2 separate regions of the Homo sapiens genome follow, and region 1 is linked to region 2. The links come from fine-mapping of genetic effects on plasma protein levels. Region 2 holds a variant in brackets. A gene starts in the other region. All regions are shown on their reverse strands.

Region 1 (8,270 bases), not on the chromosome of region 2:
AGCACCAGCGCTTGTGTGCCTGGGCCCAAATTGGTATCGGAGGTTTGGCACTGCTGGCTGCCAGCCTGTCACTCCAAGGAGGACAACTCTAAAAAATGGGAGCTGAGAGGCCGGGCGCGGTGGCTCACGCCTGTAATCCCAGCACTTTGGGAGGCCGAGGCAGGCAGATCACGAGGTCAGGAGATCGAGACCATCCTGGCTAACACGATGAAACCCTGGCTGTACTGAAAATACAAAAATTAGGCGGGCATGGTGTCGGGCGCCTGTAATCCCAGCTACTCAGAAGGCTGAGGCAGGAGAATCGCTTGAACTTGGGGTCAGAGGTTGCAGTGAGCCGAGATTGCACCACTGCACTCCACCTTGGGCAACAGAGCAAGACTCCATCTCAAAAAAAAAAAAAGGAGCTGAGAGATGGCAGGGAAGAATGAGGTATGAGGTCCTGGTGACATCCTTTGAGCCTGGATCAACCTTTCCCTGAAGGCGGAGCCACTCCTGGAATTTCAGTCTTTGCTTAAAGCCACGTGGGTCAGCTTTTCTGTCACTTTCACCAATGCCCTGAACCCACAAGGCAGGAACCACATCGACAGCACCTGCTCCCCTCCGCACAGCAGGGCCCTGTGGGTGGGAGTGCCGACAGGGAAGGGGCAAAAGGAAGTGGCTGAGAGCCAGATCAATATTGACCCAGGGACGGTGCCACAGAGGGCGCTCGGATATGCTCACGACACTGCCCAGTGCCCGAGGGCCCACGGGGCTGAGCTATGAGGAAAGAGGACGCGGGCTGAGGAGGGGGTGCTGAGCGCCCCAGGGCCCACGGGGCCGAGCCATGAGGAGGGAGGACGGGGGCTGAGGAGGGGGTGCTGAGCGCCCCAGGGCCCACGGGGCCGAGCCAAACCACTTCCTACTGGCGCAGGAGAAAGCCCAGAGTGCCTGCTGGGACTGGCCGAGGTGCCTGTCCTTGTGGGGCCCACTCAGGGCGGTGTGGAGGGTCGCTGCTGCTGGCCGCTGTGGTGGCCCTGGCCAGGAGCCCCCACAAGTCCCTTGAAAAAGGGTCCCAGGACCATCGGGAAACTCAGGGTGCCGGCTGACACCACCAGGGCTGCCCACCGGTCCCCACCTTCGAGTAGGAAAGTTTGCTCAGAAGGAGTGAGGAAGGGGGCCTCGGGGCCGGGGTCCAGCGCCTGCGGCCTTTGGCTCTAGACATAAAAAGAAGAGCAGCTTCTATTGGAACAGCACCACAGACCCCTCCCAAAGCCCCAGATCATTCTAGCATGGAGGGCTAACCTAACCAGGGCCCAGCCACCAGGACACCACCTGACAGCCAGCTGCTATCCCAGGAGAGCAGAGGTGGGCAGAGAGGGGCCCCAGAAAACTCCGGCAATGAACAGTCACCAAGATGCCTGCTCTGGCGGGGAGCTGCACTCACCTGCCCAGGTGACCACATCAGAGAGGCATGGGTATCCGGAGTTCAACCCAGTTTGCTTAATAATTTATGTACTCAAGGCATTAGGAAGAGAGGGCACCAGAGAAAGAGGGATATCAAAGAGAGGGGGCATCACAGAGAGCAGGGGCCTCAGAGAGAGAGGACATCAGAGAGAGAATGGGGACATGGTGGGGGCATCAGAGTGGGCATCTGCCACCTGAACAGCCCTCCACAGGTGTCTGCGGAAGCACCGCCAAAGCGTGGGCCGGGCGGAGGCACCGTGAGCCTCTAGGCTCCCCAGCAGGAGCACCCAGGGGCTGAGTACCCTGCTCCGAGGCCCTGAGGTCTTTCAATAGGCCCCAAATTCAATATCTGGCCCCTTCCCCAGAGCCGCAAAGTGCTTGTTTACCTTCCAGCTCTTCCTGCATTCCGTGGGAGTGGGCAAGGTGTGCGTGTTTATTTTGGCCCAAAAGATGCCCTGCAAACACTGCCCAGAACAAGCTGACCGTGTCGTCTGCAGACAGCGCCAAGCACTTTCTCAGTGTCTCGGCAGACCTGAGCCAGCAAGGGCCGCAAGCAGGAGTGGCAGGGAAGGCCCAGGCTGACGAGAGGGCGCTGCCCACCCGCCCCTGTCCCATGCCGGGCGGACTCTGACACCCACCCTGGAAGCCTCACCTGGCCTGGCCTTCAAGGGGCAGGGCAGCACTTGGAGGGCATGGCAGGCCCCAGGTCCGTCCACACCCCAGCTCCTGGAACCTTGGAATGTTAGGCTCAGCAGGCACGGTCTCGGCAGCCCGACTGGGGGCGTCATTGTGAGATGAGGGGACTGTCCTGGGTTATCTAGGTGAGCCCTAAATGCAACAACACACACACTCATAAGATGGCGGCAGAATTTTCACACTCACACACACCCACACTCACACACACATTCACACACACTTGCACACAATTCAAACACATGCATATCCACACACTCCCTCCCACACACTCCCTCCCACACTCTCCCTCCCACACAGACTGACTCACGCTTATCCACACACACACTTGTACACACATTCACACTCAAACACACCCACAAGCTCACACCCACTCACTCTCCTTCACATGCACATTCTCATTCACTGTCCATCTTACACACTTGCATGCATATTCACTCTCACCCCTCCACACACACACCCCCACACATCCCCACACCCACACACACCCACACATGAACCCTCACACACACCCACATACACACCCACACATACACACCCTCACACACACCCCACACACACTCACACACCCACACATACCCTCACACACCCTCACACACACCCATACCCTCTCACTCCCACACACCCACACACGAACCCTCACACACCCACACACACCCCCACACACACCCACACACCCACACACACCCACACACCGACAAACCCTCACACACACACCCCACGCACCCTCACACACACACCCACACACACAGAAGAGGAGGAGGCCATGTGACCAGGAGGCAGAGACTGGAGTGATGCAGTCACCAGCCAAGGGGCCCTGGCAGCCCCCATAAGCAGGGAGAGGCCAGGAGTGGATAAGCTCCTGGGAAGGCCCAGCCTCTGGAGGAGGAGCGGCCCCCGACGCCTCGCCTTCACCCCCGTGACACTGCACTTCTGGGCTCCAGAACTGCGAGCGGAGTAAATGTGTTGTTTTCAGCCACCAGGTATGTGGTGACTTGTCACAGCAGCCTCAGGAAATGAATACAGAGGCAGCCGCTGACCCAGCTGTGCAGGTCTCGGCACAGGCCAGACCCTCGGCCTGCCTGATCCCCAACTACCGCAGAGGCTTCGCCAGCCGTGGCCCCCAGAGCCAGTGTGGGGTGAGGGGCTGGGCCAGCCTGAGGTGAGTCCTGGCTTGCCTTGACCATGGCAGCTCGGGAGAGGAGAGCACATCCTTTGGCCCTGTCAGTGGTGAAACGGAGACACCGTGACACACTTCTCCGGGGAGCCAGGGGATGTATTTTTGGAATCCGAAATCTTGGGGCACATGGGAATGAGGGCCTGTCACCACCCTGCAGGCTTGTGGGAAATGGGAACAGATCCACCCAAGGCACTATGAGCCGGAAGGTGGAGGGAGGTTATTTTGAAGACAAAGGATCCCTGGAGGCAGGTGCAAGGGGCCGCTGGAGTGGCCAGGACCCCAAGCGCTGCTGGGGACCCACAGATGACGGCCTCCCCCTCCTCCTGGCCTCGGCAGCATCGGTCTTTCCCGCGGTCAGTGTTCTCTGGTCCCCAGGCAGCATGGGGAAAGGTGGCCCCAAAGTCAGCTCCCAAGATGCGCCCACTGGGATTGCTTGGGCCAAGGCTGCCAGATCCTGCTCAGGAGAAGAACAAGCATCATGAGGTTGTGGACACACTGGGATCCTTGTGCATTGTTGCTGGGAAGGCAGCGTGGTGCCGCTGCTATGGGAGAGATGGCAGATCCTCACAAATGACACAGGCAAGTTCCACAGGCTCCAGCCATTCTACCTCTGAGCAGCCACCCAAAACAGCCAACAGCAGGGTCCCAAAGAGGCATTTGCACAGCCGTGTTCACGGCCGCATTACTCACAGCAGTGAAAACATGCAAGCGCCCACATGTCCACCCACGGGTGAAGTGAATGGGTGAAGAAAACGTGGCACAGCCATGCAATGGAGCAGTATCCTACCCTAAGAAGGAAGGAAACTCTGAAGGTCATGAATGAACCTGGAGGATATCATGCTAAGTGAAATACGCCAGACACAAAAGACAAACACTGCCCGATTCCACTCATATGAGGTGCCGGGAGTGGCCAGATTCAGAGACAGAAAGTGGAATGGTGGTGCCAAGGGCTTGGGGAGGGGAGTGGGGAGTTGTTTAATAGGCTCAGAGTTTCAGTTTTATAAGAGGAAAAGAGTTCTGGAAATGGATTGTGGTGATGTTTGCACAACATTAGAATATACTTAATGCTAATGGAGTGTGCCCTTAAGATGGTGAAGCTGGGCTGTGCGGGGTGGCTCACACGTGTCATCACAGCACCTTGGGAGTCTGAGGCGGGAGGATTGCTTCAGGCCAGGATTTTGAGACCAGCTTGGTCAATGTAGCGAGACCCCATCTCTAGAAAAAATAAAAATAAATCAAGCCAGGCGTGGTGGCTCACACCTGTAATCCCAGCACTTTGGGAGGCTGAGGCAAGAGTATCACTTGAGGCTAAGAGTTCAAGACCAGTCTGGGCAACACAGTGAGACTTTGTCTCTACAAAAAATAAACAAAATTAGCTGGACATAGTGGTGCACACCTATAGCCCCACCTGCTTGGGAGGCTGAGGTGGGAGAATTGCTTGAGCCTGGGAGGTGGAGGCTGCAGTGAACCAAGATCACCTCACTACACTCCAGCCTGGGCGACAGAGTGAGACTGTCTCAAAAAACAAACAAACAAAAAACAAAATCAAAATCCGCTGAGTGTGGTGGCTCACACCTCTAGTCCCAGCTACTTGGGAGTCTGAGGTGGGAGGATTGCTTGAGCTCAGGAGTTCGAGACCAGCCTGGGCAACACGGCAAGACAGTGTCTTTACCACCACCAAAAAAGTAATTAACTTCAAACTGTTTTTAAAAAAGAAAACGTATTTCCCATTAAAATTACTTCCATGATGACCAACAAAACACAACCAAACTCCAGATTTATAATGCAAAAATCCCCCAAACAAAATAGTCAAGGAAAAGTGTAAGTGAACAGAAACAGTGTGAATGCGTGTGCCTGGCCACAACAGTTGGCAAAGGCACAAGTGTCTGCAGGTGCGGAGGAGGCCGCAGTAGCTCGGGGTGGCTGAGGGCTAAGACGTGCTGTCAGCCATAGGGAAGGAATTCCAGGACACTGCCTGAAGAGTCAGGTCCTCCCACCCGGGAGCCTGTTTCCCACGCGTGCCAGCTACACTTTACAAAAGAAAAGAGAGACTTTGCACCAACCTAGCTGAGAGCAGCCACGCAGCAAAACGTGAGTCACTCAGTGCTCAATGCCTGGGGTCAAAAAATAGAGGAAAGAAGAAGGACTAAAAGCAAATTAGTTTATGTATCATTTGCAAAAGTTTTCAAAATGTGCTTTGCTCTCCATCTGTCATACTTCTGCAGGTGACAGACGAGTGAGGACATTTAGAGAAACTCAGGAACAAACCAGGCCCATCCACTGGCGTCGAGGCTAGTTTCGAAGACAGAAAAACGCCCCACTTCTGTTTGCACTGTGGCTGCCTGTGGCCCGGCCGGGGAGGCGGCCGGGAGTGAGGCCTGATCGTCCCTGGCGCCTCCACCTCCCCAGGCGCAGAAGGCGCCCACGAGGACCCCCAGTGCCCGACGTTGCCACGGTCTGGGATCAGAGGCAGGGACCAGGGAGCCAGGAACTGCGCCGCCCCCGCCCCTGCCCTGGCGCGAGGGAAGCTCCCCTCACCCGGGCCCAGCCCTGCAGGGGGGCGCGTGGGGTCAGACCGCAAAGCGAAGGTGCGGGCCGGGGTGGGCCTCGCGGAGACAAAGGCCGGGCCTGCCTGCTCTCAGAGGGCCCCAGCGCCTGCCAAGAGGAAGTCCTCGAGGCCCGGGCAGGGAAGGGGGCACGGGCTTCCCAGGGCCCGCCGGCCGCAGCAGGAAGTTGGCCAGGGCACGGCCGTGAGCGGAGCGGGCAGGGCTTTCTCAGGAGCGCGGGCGAGGCCGGCGCTGGAGGGGCGAGGACCGGGTATAAGAAGCCTCGTGGCCTTGCCCGGGCAGCCGCAGGTTCCCCGCGCGCCCCGAGCCCCCGCGCCATGAAGCTCGCCGCCCTCCTGGGGCTCTGCGTGGCCCTGTCCTGCAGCTCCGGTGAGCGCCCCGGGCTCCTGGCGCGCACGGTGGGGCCTGAGGCCTCGGCGCCCGCTGCGCCCCCGCCGCTGCCTGCGCCGATCGTGGATCCCAGGTCCTTCCAGCCTCGCCCGGCGCCCAGAGGGCTCCGCCACCCCGGGGCCCCGCGCCTGCAGCCCGCGGCCTCCCCCTCTCAGGGCTGTCTCCAGCCTCGTGCCGGGATGGAGGCCGCCCCTGGCCTGGGGACACCCGTCTGCCCCCCGTCTGGAGACCGGCTCCTCATCCTGCAAGGCGCAGCGCGAGTGTCCCCTCCCTTGGGGGCCTGTCCCGGACCCTGCACAGAGTTCACCGGTCCTTCCGCCACCCTCAGGCCACTCCGGTGACCCTGCAGCGTCTCCTGGCGGGGCCGCCTCCCCAGACCCGCCTGTGTCCCGGGGGCTCGCACCTGGCAGGCCTCGGCGCAGGAGGGAGGGGCGGTCGGGGAGCCGGGCAGGGCGCGACGGTTCCTGGGCGCCTCCCGCGGGGGCGCGTCCTGGACCTGCCTTCTGGGGACCCCGGCGCGCAGGCGGTGACCCCTCCCTGTTCGCTTGCAGCTGCTGCTTTCTTAGTGGGCTCGGCCAAGCCTGTGGCCCAGCCTGTCGCTGCGCTGGAGTCGGCGGCGGAGGCCGGGGCCGGGACCCTGGCCAACCCCCTCGGCACCCTCAACCCGCTGAAGCTCCTGCTGAGCAGCCTGGGCATCCCCGTGAACCACCTCATAGAGGGCTCCCAGAAGTGTGTGGCTGAGCTGGGTCCCCAGGCCGTGGGGGCCGTGAAGGCCCTGAAGGCCCTGCTGGTAAAGTGGGCACCCCGGGTGCCCTTCCTGCGCGGGCATCCCTTCCCGGCCAGCCTCAAAACTGCACCAGAGGTGTCCCGGCCCTACGTCAGGGCTGTTTCCCGTCCTGCCCCTCCAAGCCCTGTCCCTGGGAGAAGCCCGGGTCTCCGGGTGGGAACTGGGTGGGGCGCATCCGAGCTGCAGGGGCGGGGAAGGCGGAGATGGCCCCGCGCGGGTGCGCGTCCCCCGGAGACGCCAGCGGAACCGCCCCGCTCCCGCTCCCCACAGAGCCGGCCGCTGCCGCGCCCCCGCCTGAGTTCTTGGTGGCAGGGCTGGGGGCACTCAAGCTCGGCTTCTGCTTTCCAGGGGGCCCTGACAGTGTTTGGCTGAGCCGAGACTGGAGCATCTACACCTGAGGACAAGACGCTGCCCACCCGCGAGGGCTGAAAACCCCGCCGCGGGGAGGACCGTCCATCCCCTTCCCCCGGCCCCTCTCAATAAACGTGGTTAAGAGCAGCTCGAGCCTGGTATTTTCTCATCCAAATGCTGATCCCTGTGGGGGACCGAGAGTGCCAAGTCCCAGATTTTGTGAGGGGTGCTGCGTGAGAGAGGGAGAGAGAGGCCGCGAGAGTCTGCAGGTGGCATAGAGCCAGCAGTGCAAGGTGACAGAGATGGGGCCAGTATCAGAGGTAAACCGGATTTGGAAACAAAACTGGCAGGTCTTTCTTCCTGTTGTGCTCTGTAACTGTTTATGAAGCATAAAAATTATCTACTCCTTGAAGACTGGCGAGAATGCAAACGCACCAAAGCCATTTGTTGCTAAAATTTGAAAGTTTTTATTTTTTCCCTCTATACTTGTAGATTTCTTCCTCGGAATGGGGGAGGAATGAGGGCTTCAGGAAATCCGCTGTTGGGCTTGTTTTCCCTGCAGTTTCTGCTGGTTTTGTCCAAATAACCTAGTGACTTTGATTCCTTCTACTCTAGCGGAGAGACCACCTTTTGTCAACTGATCTAGTGTTGGTGGGAAGGTGCCCAGGGAACCCAGACATCGGTGTCCCTTTCAGGGGAAGCCTCCCAGTTGACTTCCTTGCTGGGATGAATAACTCTGCCTCAGGTGGCTTGAGCAGGTCTTCCCCCCATCATGAATATCCACACGAGATTTTAAAAATTTTTTGATTGGGCACGGTGGCGCACACCTGTAACCCTAGCACTTTGAGAAGCCAAGGCA
Region 2 (8,303 bases):
AATGGAAAAAACAAGGAGACAGATTCTCCCCTGGAGACTCCAGAAAGAATGCAGCCTGCCAACACCTTGGTTTTTAGCCCAGTGAAATGCATTTCAGACATCTGGCCTCCAGAACGAGAAGATCATAAATTTGTGTGTTTTTAAGTTATTAAGTCTGTGGTAAGTTGTTACAGCAGCCATAGAAACTAATGTAGAGGCTGTTTGCAATGATCCAGGTCACAGATGGTGAAGGCTTGGAATTGGCAATAGGGTCAAGAGAAGGGGATAAGGGCTGGGCACGGTGGCTCACGCCTGTAATCCCAACACTTTGGGAGGCAGAGGCTGGCAGATCATTTGAGTCCAGGAGTTTGAGACCAGCCTGGCCAACATGGCGAAAACCCGTATCTATGAAAAAAAATACAAAAATTAGCTGGGCATGGTGGTGTGCGCCTGTCATCCCAGCTACTCAGGAGGCTGAGGGAGGAGGATTGCTTGAGCCTGGGAGGCGGAGGTTGCAGTGAGCAGTGATTGCAACCTTGCACTCCAGCCTGGGTGACAGAGTGAGACCCTATCTCAAAAATAAATAAATAAAAAAAAATAAAGGGATCAATTCCATGTAAGTTGAGATGGACTCAGAGACCGACTGGACGCCTAAGGTCAGGAGGTCAGGAGATCCCCCAGCCCAGCAACCCTTTCTCCTCTCCTGATGCCCCAAGGCCTGCTCCTCCTTCCACAGCTCCCAGGGAGCCTCTGATCAAGTCTCTATCCTGTCCCAGGGCTGATTAGTACCTACTTTTGTGACAGGGGCCTAACAGGGAATTCTTTTTCATTTTTATTTTTGAGATGGAGTCTCATTCTGTCACCCAGGCTGGAGTGCAGTGGTGTGATCTCGGCTTACTGCAACCTCGGCTCACTACAACTTCCGCCTCTGCAACCTCTGCCACTGCAACTTCTGCCTCCTGGGTTCAAGTGATTCTCTTGCCTCAGCTGTAGCGGGGACTACAGGCATGCGCCATCATGCCCGGGTAATTTTTGTATTACTAGTAGAGATGGGGTTTTGCCATGTTGGCCAGGCTGGTCTCGAACTCCTGACCTCAGGTGATCCGCCTGCCTCAGCCTCCCACAGTGGCTTGAGCCACTGCACCCAGCCCTAAGAGGGAACTCTAAAGGAAGCTCTGTAGGTATCTGCCTCGTGGTTACACACACAGGGTGGCTGTGAAACCGCCTTTGCAAAAATTACAACTGAGGAAATTATGACAGTGAAAGAGATCAGACCTAACCGACTCCATCTTCCTTCTAACCTTTAAGCTGTCCTTGTTCATTCCTGGGCATAGGCCTGAACTAACTTTGGGAAGGAATTCAGTTCATGTTTTGACTCTGAAACAAAATTGATAATAGCCATTTCCCTAAAAAAAACCCCATTCTTGCCTGTGGACCAGTCTGCCTTTGCAAGACTAACAAATTAGCTACAAGATTAGAAATTTAGTTTAGCGGTCATGCAGCCTCTGGCTCCAAGAGTCTGAGCCTCCCCAGATTGCTCCTGCAGATAACATCACTATTGTAAAACCTAAGATCAGTGCTTGAGATAGTTTGCAGACCCTGCATTCGATGGATCAGCTGACACAACCCAGACTGGTAATCTGGCTCAACCATTTCTGCCATCCTCCCCAGGAACAGAAGACAGCAAGAAAACCACACTTCCACCCCCTAGGATTCCATCTCCAGCCTGACCAATCAGCACTCCCTGCTTCCCAAGCCCTTACCCGCCAAATTATCTTTAAAAACCCCGATCCCCGAATGCTCAGGGAGACTGTTTGGAGTAATAATAAAACCCAGTCTCCCACACACCAGCTCTGTGTGAATTACTCCTTCTCCACTGCAATTCCCCTGTCTTGATAAATTGGCTCCGTCCAGGCAGCGAGCAAGGTGAACCCACCGGGCAGTTACAGCTATGGGCATATAACTGCAGGTATTTTCAGAGTTAACTAGACTCTTGTGATTAGCTGGGAATCCATTCACTTGATGGGGTAACAAATCTGAGTTCCAAACCCCCGGTTTATCAATTCCCAAGCTGGCAATCAATTCCCATGCTAGCTTAGCTAAATGTATTTTCAGATTTTTTTTTTTTTGGGGACAGAGTTTTGCTCTTGTTGCCCAGGCTGGAGTGCAATGGTGCGATCTTGGCTCACTGCAACTTCTGCCTCCCAGGTTCAAGCGATTCTCCTGCCTCAGCCTCCCGAGTAGCTGGGATTTCAGGCACCCACCGCCATGCCTGGCTAATTTTGTATTTTTAGTAGAGACAGGGTTTCTCCATGTTGGTCAGGCTGGTCTCGAACTCCCGACCTCAGGTGATCCGCCTGCTTCGGCCTCCCAAAGTGCTGAGATTATAGGCGTGAGCCACCGTGCCCAGTCTATTTTCAGATTTTTTTGCATGTACTATAGTTTTATAATTTTAGTTTGCTCATGGAAATATGTTGGGTGGCTAACTACTGATGATTCATCCTCACATTATCCCCATGTGCCTGTTGGTGTATTCTGAAAGTGCTTGGGAGGAACATCCCCTAATTACATGTTTCAGAATGCATTGTTTGTGTGGCCTCATCATCATCAATAAAACTTCTCTTGATCGTCTATCTGAAGCCATTTTGAGTGGCAGACACCCCTATGGTGATTACTGCCCACAAATCCCTTGGCTTTCGAAAACAGCAGGGCTTGCATCAGCTGCAAACTAGACATAATTTTATCCATATCATCGTGATAAGGCTAATGAAGGCTGGTTTTGCTTCTTCTTCCTGCCTCATGAGTCATTTACAGATATTTCTGTCAGGCTAACCTCAACTGTCTCTCATACACAACGGCAGCTTTCCTACTGATCAATTAGTCCAGGCACATTGACACAAGCCCCTGGATTTTGCAACGTGATGGCGGTGTTTGACAACTACCATTCTGCTTTAGCTTTCCTCCAGAGTAAGTTTCCTTTGGTTGCAGATTTCAGGGTTAACAGATACTTTCAAAAAGTTTTTCACTCAGATTCAGTTTTCTTGACAATGTGATCAAGAAATGTGGTCTTAGCGGGGCGTGGTGGCTCAAGCCTGTAATCCCAGCACTTTGGGAAGCCGAAGCGGGTGGATCACCTGAGGTCAGGAGTTTGAGACTAGCCTGACCAACATGGTGAAACCCCGTCTCTACTAAGAATACAAACAAATGACCAGGCACGGTGGCTCATGCCTGTAATCCCAACACTTTGGGAGGCTGAGGTGGGCGGATCACCTGAGGTCGGGAGTTCAAGACCAGCCTGACCAACATGGTGAAACCTGTCTCTACTAAAAATACAAAATTAGCCAGCCATGGTGGCATGCGCCTGTAATCCCAGCTACTTGGGAGGCTGAGGCAGGAGAATCACTTGAACCTGGGAGGTGGAGGTTGCAGTGAGCCGAGATTGCGCCACTGTACTCCATCCTGGGCCACAGAGTGAGAAACCGTCTCAAAAAAAAAAAAAAAAAAAAATAGGCCATAGCCTGAGCTTAGCCTGCTGGCCATAGTCTACAGACCCATGCTATAATACACGAGTAACTGGTGTGAGTAACTACACACAGACAGAAAAGCACCCAGTGAACAGTGCCTTCATTTCTCGAATTTCCTGCTTTCTGTCAACATGCATCACACAGTTACATGCTCTTCCTGTGGTTGCAATCAGTTTATCTTTGCATTCTGCTGTTTTAAAATTTAACGCCCATTTCTGTGGATTGGCATAGCCCACATTCTTGTGAATCACCCACAGTGATTCCTGCAGTGTTGTCCCCAGCCTCAAGCCTCTCTGCACCGTAATTGTGCTTCTTTTCCTCAGATACCTGCCTTGCATTGGCCCTGGGTAAATGTTTCCCTTGGCTGTGAATAGGCAATTAAAATTCTGAACCTTTTATGGCTCTGGAAGCTTATCCGATGAAACAATACTCATCCAGGCGGATGGCCCACCAGCGCAAAGGTATGTGCTTTAGGATGACCTGGTGAAGGAGAATGTGATGCCTCAGCAGGGAGGGAGTGGGGGAGGAGAGGGAGCTGGGCAGCCCCCATCAAGGCCCCACCGGAGGCAAGGAATCTCTTTTGGAGTTGCCAGTCCCCCAACCTGCTCCGGAATTTTTACAATCAGATCCCCTCCTTCGTGGCTGAAAATGAAGGGCACGGTGGCTTTCTAGTTTGTGTGTGTGAGTGTGTGTTTGGGGGTAGGTGGACTTTGCTCATCACCATCATTTGGATTTTTGGCTCTGGGGATTCTGGAATTAGGGATCCCACCACCACCTGCAGGGCAGGGGTTGGGGCACGGGCTCTGGAATCTGGGTTGTGTGAGGAGTAATTGAGAGATTGCAAGGCCCGGCGCGGTGGTTCACGCCTGTAATCCCAGCACTTTGGGAGGCCGAGGCTGGTGGATCACGAGGTCAGGAAATCAAGACCATCCTGGCTAACACCGTGAAACCCCATCTCTACTAAAAATACGAAAAATTAGCCTGGCGTGGTGGCGGGCGCCTGTAGTCCCAGCTACTCGGGAGGCTGACGCAGGAGGATGGTGCAAACCCGGGAGGCAGAGCTTGCAGTGAGCCAAGATCACACCACTGCACTCCAGCCTGGGCGAGAGAGCAAGACTCCGTCTCAAAAACAAACAAACAAACAAACAAACAAAAAACCACTACTGGCTGAGGGCGGGCGCGGTGGTTCACGCCTGTAATCCCAGCCCTTGAGGGGCCAAGGCGGGTGGATCACCTGAGGTCAGGAGTTCGAGACCAGCCTGGCCAACATGGAGAAACCCTGTCTCTACTTAAAACACAAAAATTAGCCAGGCATGATGGCAGGAGCCTGTAATCCCATCTACTCGGGAGGCTGAGGCAGGAGAATTGCTCGAATCAGGGAGTTGGAGGTTGCAGTGAGCTGAGATCATGCCACTGCACTCCAGCCTGGAGACAGAGCAAGACTCCATCTCAAAAAAAAAAAAAAAAAAAAAGATTGCGAAAGCGCCTGCCAGCACCTAAGCAATCAATAAGGGTTATTGGGTTGTGGTTTCTGCCTGGGGACTTTAGAAACCGGGCAGGTGGAGGTCAAAGGCCAGCCCCGCCAGCTCCGCATGGTCTTCTCCACCTTTGGGGCCATCTCAAGTTCTAGATTCCATGAACCTTGCCCTTGAAATCGTCTGGGAATGGAATTATTGCTAATCCCAAAAAGGCTGACACATCACTCCCTGGCAGGGTTCAACCGGGTGGCAACATGGTTTGTGTGGCTGCCCCTGTTTTCCCTCAGAATTCGGATTTTAAAACTTTCAAAATATGAGATTTTTATTTTATATATATATATTTTTTATTATTATTTTTTTTTCGAGTGCGATGGCACAATCTCAGCTCACTGCAACCTCCCAGGCTGGAGTGCAGTGGCGCGATCTCGATCTCGGCTCACTGCAACCTCCGCCTCCTGGGTTCAAGCGATTCTCCTGCCTCAGCTTCCCAAATAGCTGGGACTACAGGTGCGCGCCACCACACCCAGCTAATTTTTTATTTTTAGTAGAGATGGGGTTTCACCATGTTGGACAGGCTGGTCTCGAACTCCCGACCTCAGGTGATCCACCCGCCTCGGCCTCCCAAAGTGCTGGGATTACAGGAGTCAGCCACCGCGCACGGCCGAGATTTAAAAAATTATACGGATGACACCAGATCCTCAGAGCCGGAGCTCTGGGTGCCTCAGCCCCGACAGCGCGTCCGCTCCAGGACCCTGTGGACGATGCTGCCCCCTAGTGGCCGCGGGGCACAAGGCCCACCGGACCACGTTGCTCCATGGAGGGGCTCGAACTGGAGAGCTCCGTCTCTAACCCGCCGCCTCCTTCCGTGCCCTCTGCCGACGCCCTTCCGATTCCTGCAGCCCCTCTGCAGTCCTCCACCTTTTTCTTTCTTTCCTTTTGAGACAGGGTCTCACCTTTGTCACCCAGGCTGGAGTGCAGTGGCATGATCATAGCTCACTGCAGCCTGGAACTCCTGGACTCAAGAGATCCTCCTGCCTCAGCCTCCAGAGTAGCCAGCTCTACAGGCATGCGTTACCAAACTCGGCTAATTTATTTTTATTTTTGTAGAGATGGAGTCTCACTATGTTGCCAGGCTGGTCTTGAACTCCTGGGCCCAAGCCATCTTCCTACCTCAGCCTCCCGAAGTGCTGGAATTACAGGCATGAGCCACCAAGCCCAGCCAATCCTCCGCTTCTATTTAGGTGCTGTGGATAATGTGGCCCAGCAGGGGGCTGGCTGCCATGAAACTGGCCGGGGATTTGGGGGTCTTTATATCCACATGGATGCATCTTTAGGATGAGTTCTATTCTTTGCACATTTTGCTCTAGAGCAATTTTAAAAACCAATCAGCCACAATTTTTTTTTTTTTTGAGATGGAGTTTCACTCTTGTTGTCCAGGCTGGAGTGCAGTGTCACGATCTCAGCTCACTGCAACCTCTGCCTCCCAGGTTAAGTGATTCTCCTGCCTCAGCCACCCGAGTAGCTGGGATTACAGGCACGCACCACCATACCTGGCTAATTTTTTGTATATTTAGTAGAGATGGGGTTTCACCATGTTGGCCAGGCTGGTCTCGAACTCCTGACCTCAGGTGATCCTCCCGCCTTGGCCTCCCAAAGTGCTGGGATTACCGGCGTGAGCCACCGTGCCTGGCCATCAGCCACACTTTTTGAGCAGCCAGGGCTGTGTGGCTGGTACAAAGGTCTTAAGGTTGAAAGGGGCTTGGCTCTTTTTAAAAACTGAGGGCAGGGAAGGTGGGGGTGTGTGTGGGGACTGAGCAGAATGAAGGAGCCGTGGGAAGGAGGAGCACAGGAAAGACTGGTGAGGGGCCACTATCTATCGTCAGGATTTAGGATTTTACAATAAGAGCCCTAGAAAGCTTTGAAGGATGGGGAGGGACTTTGCACTTGAGAAGAATTCCTTTGGGTTGTTGGAGAAGGGATTGTGGGGGCCCTGGAGTCTGGCTGGGAGCCAGAGAGGAGGCCCCGGGGGCTGTACAGGCAGGGATGGGGGTGTTGCCTGTGGACTTGGAGTGAAGGATTCCAGAGGCCCTTTAGAGGTAGCCTGGGTTGGCTAGAGAAGGAAGGATCGCGGATGCTCCTCAGGCTGGTGCAGCCCAGCGGGGAGGATGGAGCCAGAACTCACTGAGATAGGAACAGACTGGGGCAGGATCACTGGTTCTGTTGGACAAGTGGAGTCTGTGATGTTGAGTAGAGTCTGTGATGTTGAGTAGATGGTCTGATATAAGGGGAGGGGGCTTGAGCTCTGTTGGAGGCAGAAACCTAGAGGAAAAGAGCTTTGGAAGAGCACAGAGATTTCTGCTGGGATCCAAGGGCAGAGCTCGGCTGCTTTCCTTTTGTCCTGGCTCACCTTACCCTGACAGGGGCAGACCCCCCACCATAACAAGGAGACCAAAACCACGCAGGGGGCACAAAAGTGAGATGCTTGTGGTTTATTGAAGAGAGCAAGGCTGGTGGGCGTGGACTCAAAGCATGGCAGCGGCAGAGGCTGGAGCAGTTGGGGATCTTCAGCTTCTAAATGCTAATTACACAGTGAGCTTTGGGCTATTTTTTCCTAAAACAAATAGACAAAGAAACAGAAAAACCCAATACAACAGTGAATGAATTGCATAGTTAGGCAGAGATGACGAGCCACA[G/C]AAACTTCAACATTAACCGAGAGGTGCAGTCAACTCTAGGAGGAACTAAGGTAGTAAGGGCTTGGATTGTTTCTCAAAAGCCTCTTACAAAATAGTAAGGGGAGGCTGGGCGTGGTGGCTCACGCCTGTAATGCCAGCACTTTGGGAGGCTGAGGCGGGTGGATCACCTGAGGTCAGGAGTTCGAGACCAGCCTGGCAAACACGGTGAAACCCCATCTCTACAAAAATACAGAAATTAGCTCGGCATGATGGTGGGTGCCTGTAATCCCAGCTACTCAAGAGGCTGAGGCCGGAGAATCGCTTGAACCTGGGAGGTGGAGGTTGCAGTAAGCCAAGATCGTGCTATTGCACCCTAGTCTGGGCGACAGAGCGAGACTCTGTCTCAAAAAAAAAAAAAAAAAAAAAGGAAGAGGAGATGTCTAGAAAGATCACTGTGCTGCCTGCCTGGGGACAGTGGCACTGTGACTCTCCTCTCTGGATTAGAAACAGGTCTGAAAACTGGGGCAATCCTGCAGCCCCACTTGGGGAAGCCACTTCTAACCAGTGTGACGTGAAAGGTGCTGGTTACCATGAGCTTAATGATGCTTTCTCTGGGCTTTTGGGGGAGGGTGTCCACCAGCTTCTTCAGC

Alleles and levels. Positions count from the first base shown, and alleles are read on the strand shown. Strength reflects both the effect of a copy and how common the allele is.
As copies of G replace C in region 2, the plasma level of the protein whose gene starts at base 6,164 in region 1 goes up (weak association).

The links. A credible set is the group of variants that fine-mapping cannot tell apart. PIP is the posterior inclusion probability: the model's chance that the variant is causal. The UK Biobank Pharma Proteomics Project read protein levels with antibody pairs (Olink). The fine-mapping took linkage between variants from a reference panel, not from the people measured, so its PIPs are less certain.
Region 1: it holds the start of SCGB3A1, and the variant in region 2 is the best candidate, but not a certain one, in a credible set for the plasma level of the SCGB3A1 protein (UK Biobank, PIP 0.73).

What each region holds. Positions count from the first base shown.
Region 1 is chr5:180,589,393-180,597,662 of GRCh38, reverse strand. SCGB3A1 (secretoglobin family 3A member 1) reads left to right here and starts at 6,164. Exons shown (of 3, transcript NM_052863.3): 1 at 6,164-6,252; 2 at 6,825-7,063; 3 at 7,409-7,558. The coding sequence starts at 6,201. The coding sequence ends at 7,432. LOC124901154 (a long non-coding RNA gene) reads right to left here and starts at 4,493. Exons shown (of 2, transcript XR_007059088.1): 1 at 4,454-4,493; 2 at 3,395-3,770. RefSeq lists a silencer at 779-950 and enhancers at 5,963-6,632, 6,633-7,302, 7,303-7,972.
Region 2 is chr11:62,422,348-62,430,650 of GRCh38, reverse strand. It overlaps SCGB1A1 (secretoglobin family 1A member 1), which reads right to left. Exons shown (of 3, transcript NM_003357.5): 2 at 8,243-8,303; 3 at 7,456-7,592. The coding sequence ends at 7,560. LOC102723765 (a long non-coding RNA gene) reads left to right here and starts at 3,728. Exons shown (of 4, transcript XR_007062699.1): 1 at 3,728-3,964. RefSeq lists enhancers at 3,943-4,490, 5,840-5,909, 5,950-6,039. The variant G/C (reference allele first, on the strand shown) is at 7,675.